Linked DNA regions of Homo sapiens. The protein of the gene in region 1 interacts with the protein of each later gene in a pairwise test. Each region holds a gene or a part of one and is shown in the gene's direction. Other genes may lie near its edges.

Region 1 (3,500 bases):
TTTATAAGTGAAAAGTGCCAAGTTAAGAAAAGAAAAATTCAGACTCATTTCTTTGTCCCTTGATGAAATCCAGCCGTCCTCCCTCTCACCCACCCGCACTGTGCGTGAGTTTATGGGAAAGTCTGTCTGTGGTTCTTCTAAAAGGGAGGGAACAAAATATGTTTAGATGCCTGAGGGGTGCAAGAGGCAATACTGGGTTATTACTGGGAAAGAGCCCCAGGCCCTGGACAGATGGGGAGCCCTAGGGGGAGGGACATCCTCCACCAACCATTCTTACGTGTTATTGCCCCTGCCCTGAGCCTGAGAGCCAACTGCTGGACCCCCAGGTTGGGCTGAATCTTACAGAGGCCAGCCTTCCCTGAGCATCCACACTGTCAGGGTTCACAGTCCTGGGACTGCAGTGCAGAAGCAGGGAGGTGTCCCCTGGTGCCGGGATCCAGCTAGAGGCTGGCAGCTTGTATCAGGGCCAGGCGCAGCCTGGACTCTGCTGCCTCTTTGAAAACCAGGCCCTTGGCCCTCTGAGTCCTGGCTCCTGACTACTGAGCCATTCTTGCCTGGGGTAACAGTGAGGCCTGGCTGGGGGAAGGGAGGAGGGGAGTACCCACCTCGGCCCTGGGGCAGCGCACGGCCTAGATTGGATAACCCTGATGCCTGCCGACAGATCCAGGGCAGACACAGCCACCCCAGACGCTCCCATAGATCTCGGTGGTGTGACCTGTGGGCCAGGACACCACACATTTGGGACTCTCAGGAGACTTGTAAGAAGCTAATGGGGGCTGCTGAGGTTGGGAGCAAGGGCAGACAGAAGGGCATTTACAGGGTCCCGGGGCTCAGATAACTGAGGAGGCGCTGAGCCTGGGCTCCAACAGTCCAGGAGAGAGAGCCAGCTCTGGGGGCTGGGGCTGGCTTCTGAACGGAGGTGCTCATACTGGATAGAGGATGGATTCCAGGGAGGGGGAAGGAGGAGGGATGGGGAGTTGGGCATGAGGGTGCTACAGGGCGACTCTTGGGGTTACCTAAGTCTGGTGAGTTAGTCTCTGGACAGGAAGATGGCATCCTAATGCAAGCCTCCCTGGGTCCCATCGGTTTGGGGACCCAGGCCTGGAATGGGGCAAAGGGTGGAAGGCCCTTCCCTCATCTCCAGGGATCTCTCTCCTGCCCTCCCAGTGCATGAGCAGCCGAGCCTGCTAACCGCAGCTCCGCACTTGTCCATCCCCCTGCGGCTACACCATGTCCAGCTCCTACGATGAGGCCTCACTGGCGCCAGAGGAGACCACCGACAGCTTCTGGGAGGTGAGGCTCTCATGATCCCCAGGTTCGGGGACCAGACAGCCTGGCTGTTTGGAGGCCAGGCTCCCTTATCACTCACCCCATGACCTCAGGCCCCACTCCGCAGTCCCCCAGGCCCCTCCAAAGCCCTGGGTGTCCAACAGGCAGCGGTAGCCATGAAGTGGCTAAGAGCACTGCCCACTGAGCCAGGAGCTCCTCTCTCCCCACAGCTGCCCCCAGAGAGAGCCTGTGGCATTTCACAATGTGGGAACAGGCCCTTTGTGACTCTGTGGCACTTCCATCAGGCAGGTACAGCACAGCCTTTCTCAGCTGTTCCTATTTCCCTCGCTCGCCCCCCATCCTGAGGTGGGCAGGGGTGGAGCGCCGGACACAGAGAGAGGGAGTGAGCTCCCAGAGCCCCACGGGGCCGCAGAGCGGGAGGCACAGCCAGAAGCCAGCATTTTCAGAACCTTCGGAAATATTTGAGACCTGGAGAAAAAAAATTGCTATTGGCTCCGGAAACCCAAGACGAAAACTGCCAAACCTAAATTAATAAGCGTTTAATGAGATGTCGACAAAACATAATATTATGTCAAGAAGCTGCAGCTCAACTCAACGCTTATATGACTCTATATAAATATAATAGATTTAACTCGCAAAAACAAAATGAATAATTCATTCCAGCCCAAGTCCAAATTCTAAAAATCCTTCTGCATTTTGTGGCAGCAAGGAAATCATGTTTAAATTGGGGTGAGGGTGCGTGTAGACGGCGGGGCCTGAGGCAGGGTGCTGGAGCCTCCGAAAGTTAGTTTCCCTGGGGTGTTGCCGCTGCGCCGCGGGGCGGGGGGCGGGGGCGGGGGCGGGGACGGCGAGGCCGTAAGCGGGGAGGCGGGGCGGAAGACAGTGGGCGTGGCCGTGCTGGATGCGGCGGGCGGGGCTGGGGACGCTGGGAACCCGCGGGAGTGGTGCTCGCTGCTTGGCCGCCAGGTGGGGAACTACAAGCGGACCGTGAAGCGCATCGATGACGGCCACCGTCTATGCAACGACCTGATGAACTGCGTGCAGGAGCGCGCCAAGATCGAGAAGGCGTACGGGCAGCAGCTCACCGACTGGGCCAAGCGTTGGCGCCAGCTCATCGAGAAAGGTGCTCCCCCAGGCTCACATCGTGCGCGCCCCCAGGCCGTCACGAGCCCCCTAGGTCTGGGTCCTAGGAGCCCCGGCTACTTGCATGCACCATGCCCTCCATCTACCAGACACAGGACATTTTCAGGCGCTGTTCCCTCCTAGATCAAACCAGGCCTACCTGTTCATCTCTATTTTGTACAATTTTAGGTTGAATTAAAAAAAAAAAAACACTTTTTATCTTGAAATAATTCAAACTTTGTGAAAGTTGCAACAGTAGCACAGAGAATTCCTACATACCCTTCCCCCAGGCTCACTGGCCCCACGTTTTCTCACTGACTGTTTATTGATATGCATATTTTCTGAACCATTTGAGAGTAAGCTGGAGCCATTATCCCTGTTTACCCCTAAATTCTTCATGTATCTCCTAAGAACAAGAGCATTTGCTTAAGTAACCAGAGTTCAGCTATCAAATTTGGGACATGTAATACGACCCATACGCACATTTACCATGGCAATTGCGCTTGCTAGTCCAGGATCTAGTGCAGTCGCACATTGCCTCTATGCATTGTGTCTTCAGGTTCCTTTAATCTAGAACAGTTTGAAGTTGCGGTTTACATATACTTGTTCATGTTATTCTCTTGCAGTATACTCTAAACCCCATGAGAGCAGGGGCTGGGCCTGCACCACCTAACACAGTGCCCTGCACAGAGCTGGTGCCAGTACACAAACAACAAGTCAGTGTGGAATGACTGGTCCCCAGTGGCCTCTTGGCATCTGTCACAAGCTTCAGCTAACATTCCTGGAGCACCTACTGTGTGCTTGGCGCTGTGCTGGGCTTGTCAGAGCTCACAGGGTCCAGGCTGCCCCCCTCCGACCCCATTCCATGGGGCTCACATGCTGACAAGAGAGATAAGGAGGAGGGAGGTATGGCCGCAGATACTGTGAGAAGAATGCAGCGAGGGCTGCTGGCCATGGCAGGAGGGCAGAGCAGTCAGGGAAGGCTTCCTGGAGGTGGTGGCTGATGTGGGCCCTAGAGGATGGGGCCACGTAGAGCAGAGGAGGGCATTTCTGTTGCTATGAGAGGAAAGGGAAAGCCTCAGAGAAGG
Region 2 (3,732 bases), on another chromosome or scaffold:
ATACAGAGTCTCACTCTGTTTCCCAGGCTGGAGTGCAGTGGTGCAGTCACAGCTACAGTTTCCACTGTAGCCTCCACCAGCTGGGCTCAAGTGATCCTCTCACCTCAGCCCCGTGAGTAGCTGGAACCACAGGCATGTGCCACCACACCCAGCTATTTTTTGTAGAAAGAGGATCTTGCCATGTTGCCTAGGCTGATCTTGAACTCCTAGGCTGAAGCTATCTGCCTGCCTTGGCCTCCCAAAGTGCTGGGATTACAGGTGTGAGCCACCGTAGAAAGGTTTTAAGAGAAAATTTAACCCATCATTATTCTACCTAAGCCTGGAGAATAATAGGAAATTTTTTTTTTCCCCTATGAAAACCATTAGACTCATTCTGGTAACACTTCCTTATACTAACATAATCATTTGATGACTCTTTTCAAGTAAACAATTTAGGTTTCGAGTTCTGCAGACTGGACTCAAATAAAGGGCAATACTTTAAAGGAAGTTAAAAGTACTTAGTTCTAATCGTTGATGAATGTGATGTGACATTTGCCCCTTACTGGTTAAAAAAATAGTGCTTCGTAGATTGATCATGATGGATTTGCATTACTCTTGCATATTGCTAGTGACTTGGTAGACCCTTAATAAGTGCTTATTGATTGGCTGATCACTATGATCACAGATATTTTCATCAGCTCTACTAGTCTTTATCTTGCGTCTTATAATAATAATGATAGATAATCTGTTGACTACTTGCTAAGTAGTGTGATAAGTAATTTATATGTACCATATTTTAAGGTAGGAGGATGCAGTTTACATTTTGAGAATTTTTTGTAGTTGTCTCTGTTGATTATACTTTTACAGGCTTCTGATCATTTCTTTGTCTTTTTAAGACTATTTTGAGTGACTATTTTTGATCAAATGTAAGACACTTTGATGCTGGTGCTTCCTTGATCTTTCCAGGAGGAATCAACTGAACGTTTTCACCAACGACATCCCACTGTTGGATGACAGTAGTTGTAAGATACACCTCTATTTCAGCGTCCATACTTCAGAAAGGTTAAAAGTGTTGTTGTTGTTAAAAGCATCTGAAAGTTGATGAAAAAGGAACATTAGTTTGTTTACTTACTGCAGTGCAGCCTTGCTTTTTAGGATATAAACCACTCACGTGTTCTTTGTTGCCTGAATGGATTTCAGTGTAGTATTTCCACTTCTCAGAATTCTTGTTTTGTTCTGCTTTTTTTTTTTTTTTTTTTTTTTTTGGTAGGTCTCTTCATTTCAGGGTAAGCTTCAGATGTGATTTAATTTAGTTCAATAGTAAAGAATGCTGGAAAGATAATTTGTAATTTTATTTTTCCATTTTAAAACTTAAGATGGGTTATGCCATCTATAATACTGGTTAAAAATATTAGTTTGATGAATGTGCATCTTAATAAATGTACATTCCTGTGTAACTTGATCCCTCTCAATGTGTATAAATAGTATGAGTAGATTCAAGTACATCATCCCTTGATGTATGTAGATCCAAGTTTAGAAAGGTATTTATTTATTTTTTTGACACAGAGTCTTGCTCTGTTGCCCAGGCTGGAGTGCAGTGGTGCAATCACGGCTCACTGTGGCCTTTACCGGCAGGTCTCATGTGACTATCAAGTGAATTACTATCAAAAATAGAGGTTCAAAATAATCTTAAAAAGACAAAGACTTGCTAGCCTGTAGAAGTGTAAAGTATAGTTAATGGAAACAATTACAAAAAATTCTCAAAATATAATCTGCATCCTTCCACCTTAAAAGATGGTACATATACATTATTAATACTTATACCTTACTTATTAAGTAGTCAATAGATTTAGTGACATTCGTATGTCTGGGATGTCAGTGAACTCACAACAATTTATTTGCAAAAGGAACTCTAGCCAATTAGTGTCCTCAGCCAGCAATGTACAGAGAATCATATTTTGTTTGTTGGTGAAACCATTCCTTTCTAAATCATGTCTGCTTTTGGGGGTTGATTTGCTTATTACTTTATTGTTAACTGTTATCTCTTTGTTTGCTCTCATTATGCCTGCCCATAGTAGTCTCCTCTTTATAATTTGATGTTTTCAGTGTGCTGTGGGAACAGAACCCCATACAGTACTTGCTGAATGGTGGATAAAAATGACAGCATGTTCTTCTGGGTGAGGAACCAGAAGACTTTCTGTGCATGGAGCTTTAGTGCTAGGGACTTGTTGTTTTTTACTGCTTAGAGGACTCGTGCTTTTTTTCTGGTTTTTGACTCTGTTTTGGCTAAGTGATGCTTCTGGATAGCCGAGGATGGTATAACAGGATGGTAGATGCTACCCTGTGGATGTTTAACTTCCTCTGAATAATAAACCTCTAAAAATTGTCTTGTTAAGTCTAACTCAAGTGGATGGAGAAGAACTGTTTTTCCTGTTAGAATGACTTGCTAGTCTACTTCTTGTAAGAACCATCAAAACCCTAAGCATGTATACTAGGATACTTAGATCTACTGGTATATTGTTACAATGTAAGTCAAAGAGCAGATATTAAAAGTCTTAAAGCACTATGAGATTGCTTGTAAAATAGCCAGATGTGTCTGTTACCTAAATATTTTTGTTTAAACTGGATCTTAATCTGTTTTCTTTGAGGTAAAATTATCTTTATAGATGCATTTTTCTGTATTTGTGTTGATACAATTTAGACCATGTCTTGTATGTAATATTCCTGATACTACTGAACCCTTAATATACTTTCAGTAAATACTAGTTACAGTTTGTCATGCATTTTTTCATTGTTTCACCTTTTCCTGCCTTAGAGTTAATGTTTTTGGAGCTAGAATGTCCTTAGGAATGATACAGTAGAATTTCTGCATTTTATAGATGAGAATGAGACTGTGACTTGTTTAGAATTGTTCTTTTTCTGCAGATGTAGATTTGAAAGGAAATAACAAAAAACAAACAAAAAAAGAACTGTGCTTTGATTCTTAGTTTAGTATTTTTCCTGTTCTAACATTTTTCCTGTTCTAATGTTCTTCCCAAGGTAAAAATTTTAAGGGAGGGATAGTAGCTTGGAATTTTGTAGCCTCTGTAACAGAAGTCTGCAAAAATTTTATTTCAGCAGTATAAAAAATTGAGTCTTCATTCCCAATATGTGTATGCTTATTTATTGTAAACTATATACTATAAATTATGTTCATAATAAGACATTAACCCGGGCGTGGTGGCTCACACCTGTAATTCCAGCACTTTGGGAGGCTGAGGCGGGCAGATCACCTGAGGTTGCGAGTTCGAGACCAGCTCAACCAACATGGAGAAACCCCATCTCTACTAAAAATACAAAATTAGCCAGGCGTGGTAGTGCATGCCTGTAATCCCAGCTACACAGGAGGCTGAGGCAGGAGAATCACTTGAATCCGGGAGGCGGAGGTTGCGGTGAGCCGAGATTGCACCATTGCACTCCAAACTGGGCAACAAGAGCGAAACTCTGTCTCAAAAAAATAAAAAATAAATAAAAAATAAAAAAGACATTAACAAAAAAATGTGATAAGGATGAAAAACATTTTCAAATAATTTAAAATATATTAGTTCCATGTTTTTGATCCTACTTAAAATATTAGTAATTTGTAAAATAAGAAAAATGTGATTGAATATCATCACTTAAACATTTTTTTTTAAATTTTGAAGTATTTATAGACTCATGGGAAGTTGCGAGAATAGTACAGGGAGTCCTGTGTCACCTTCATTCAGCTTCTCC

What was found. Proteins that work in one complex are often made in the same cells at the same time.
Region 2: the proteins of PACSIN1 (region 1) and FRYL interact in a two-hybrid assay, tested with the Homo sapiens proteins (one large-scale study listed by IntAct).

Annotation. Positions count from the first base shown.
Region 1 is NC_000006.12:34,525,076-34,528,575, forward strand, and holds part of PACSIN1 (protein kinase C and casein kinase substrate in neurons protein 1), read left to right. Parts: intron 1-1,167; 5' UTR 1,168-1,230; coding exon 1,231-1,293; intron 1,294-2,256; coding exon 2,257-2,413; intron 2,414-3,500. UniProt on the Homo sapiens protein: Plays a role in the reorganization of the microtubule cytoskeleton via its interaction with MAPT; this decreases microtubule stability and inhibits MAPT-induced microtubule polymerization.
Region 2 is NC_000004.12:48,770,192-48,773,923, reverse strand, and holds part of FRYL (protein furry homolog-like), read left to right. Parts: intron 1-3,732. UniProt on the Homo sapiens protein: Plays a key role in maintaining the integrity of polarized cell extensions during morphogenesis, regulates the actin cytoskeleton and plays a key role in patterning sensory neuron dendritic fields by promoting avoidance between homologous dendrites as well as by limiting dendritic branching.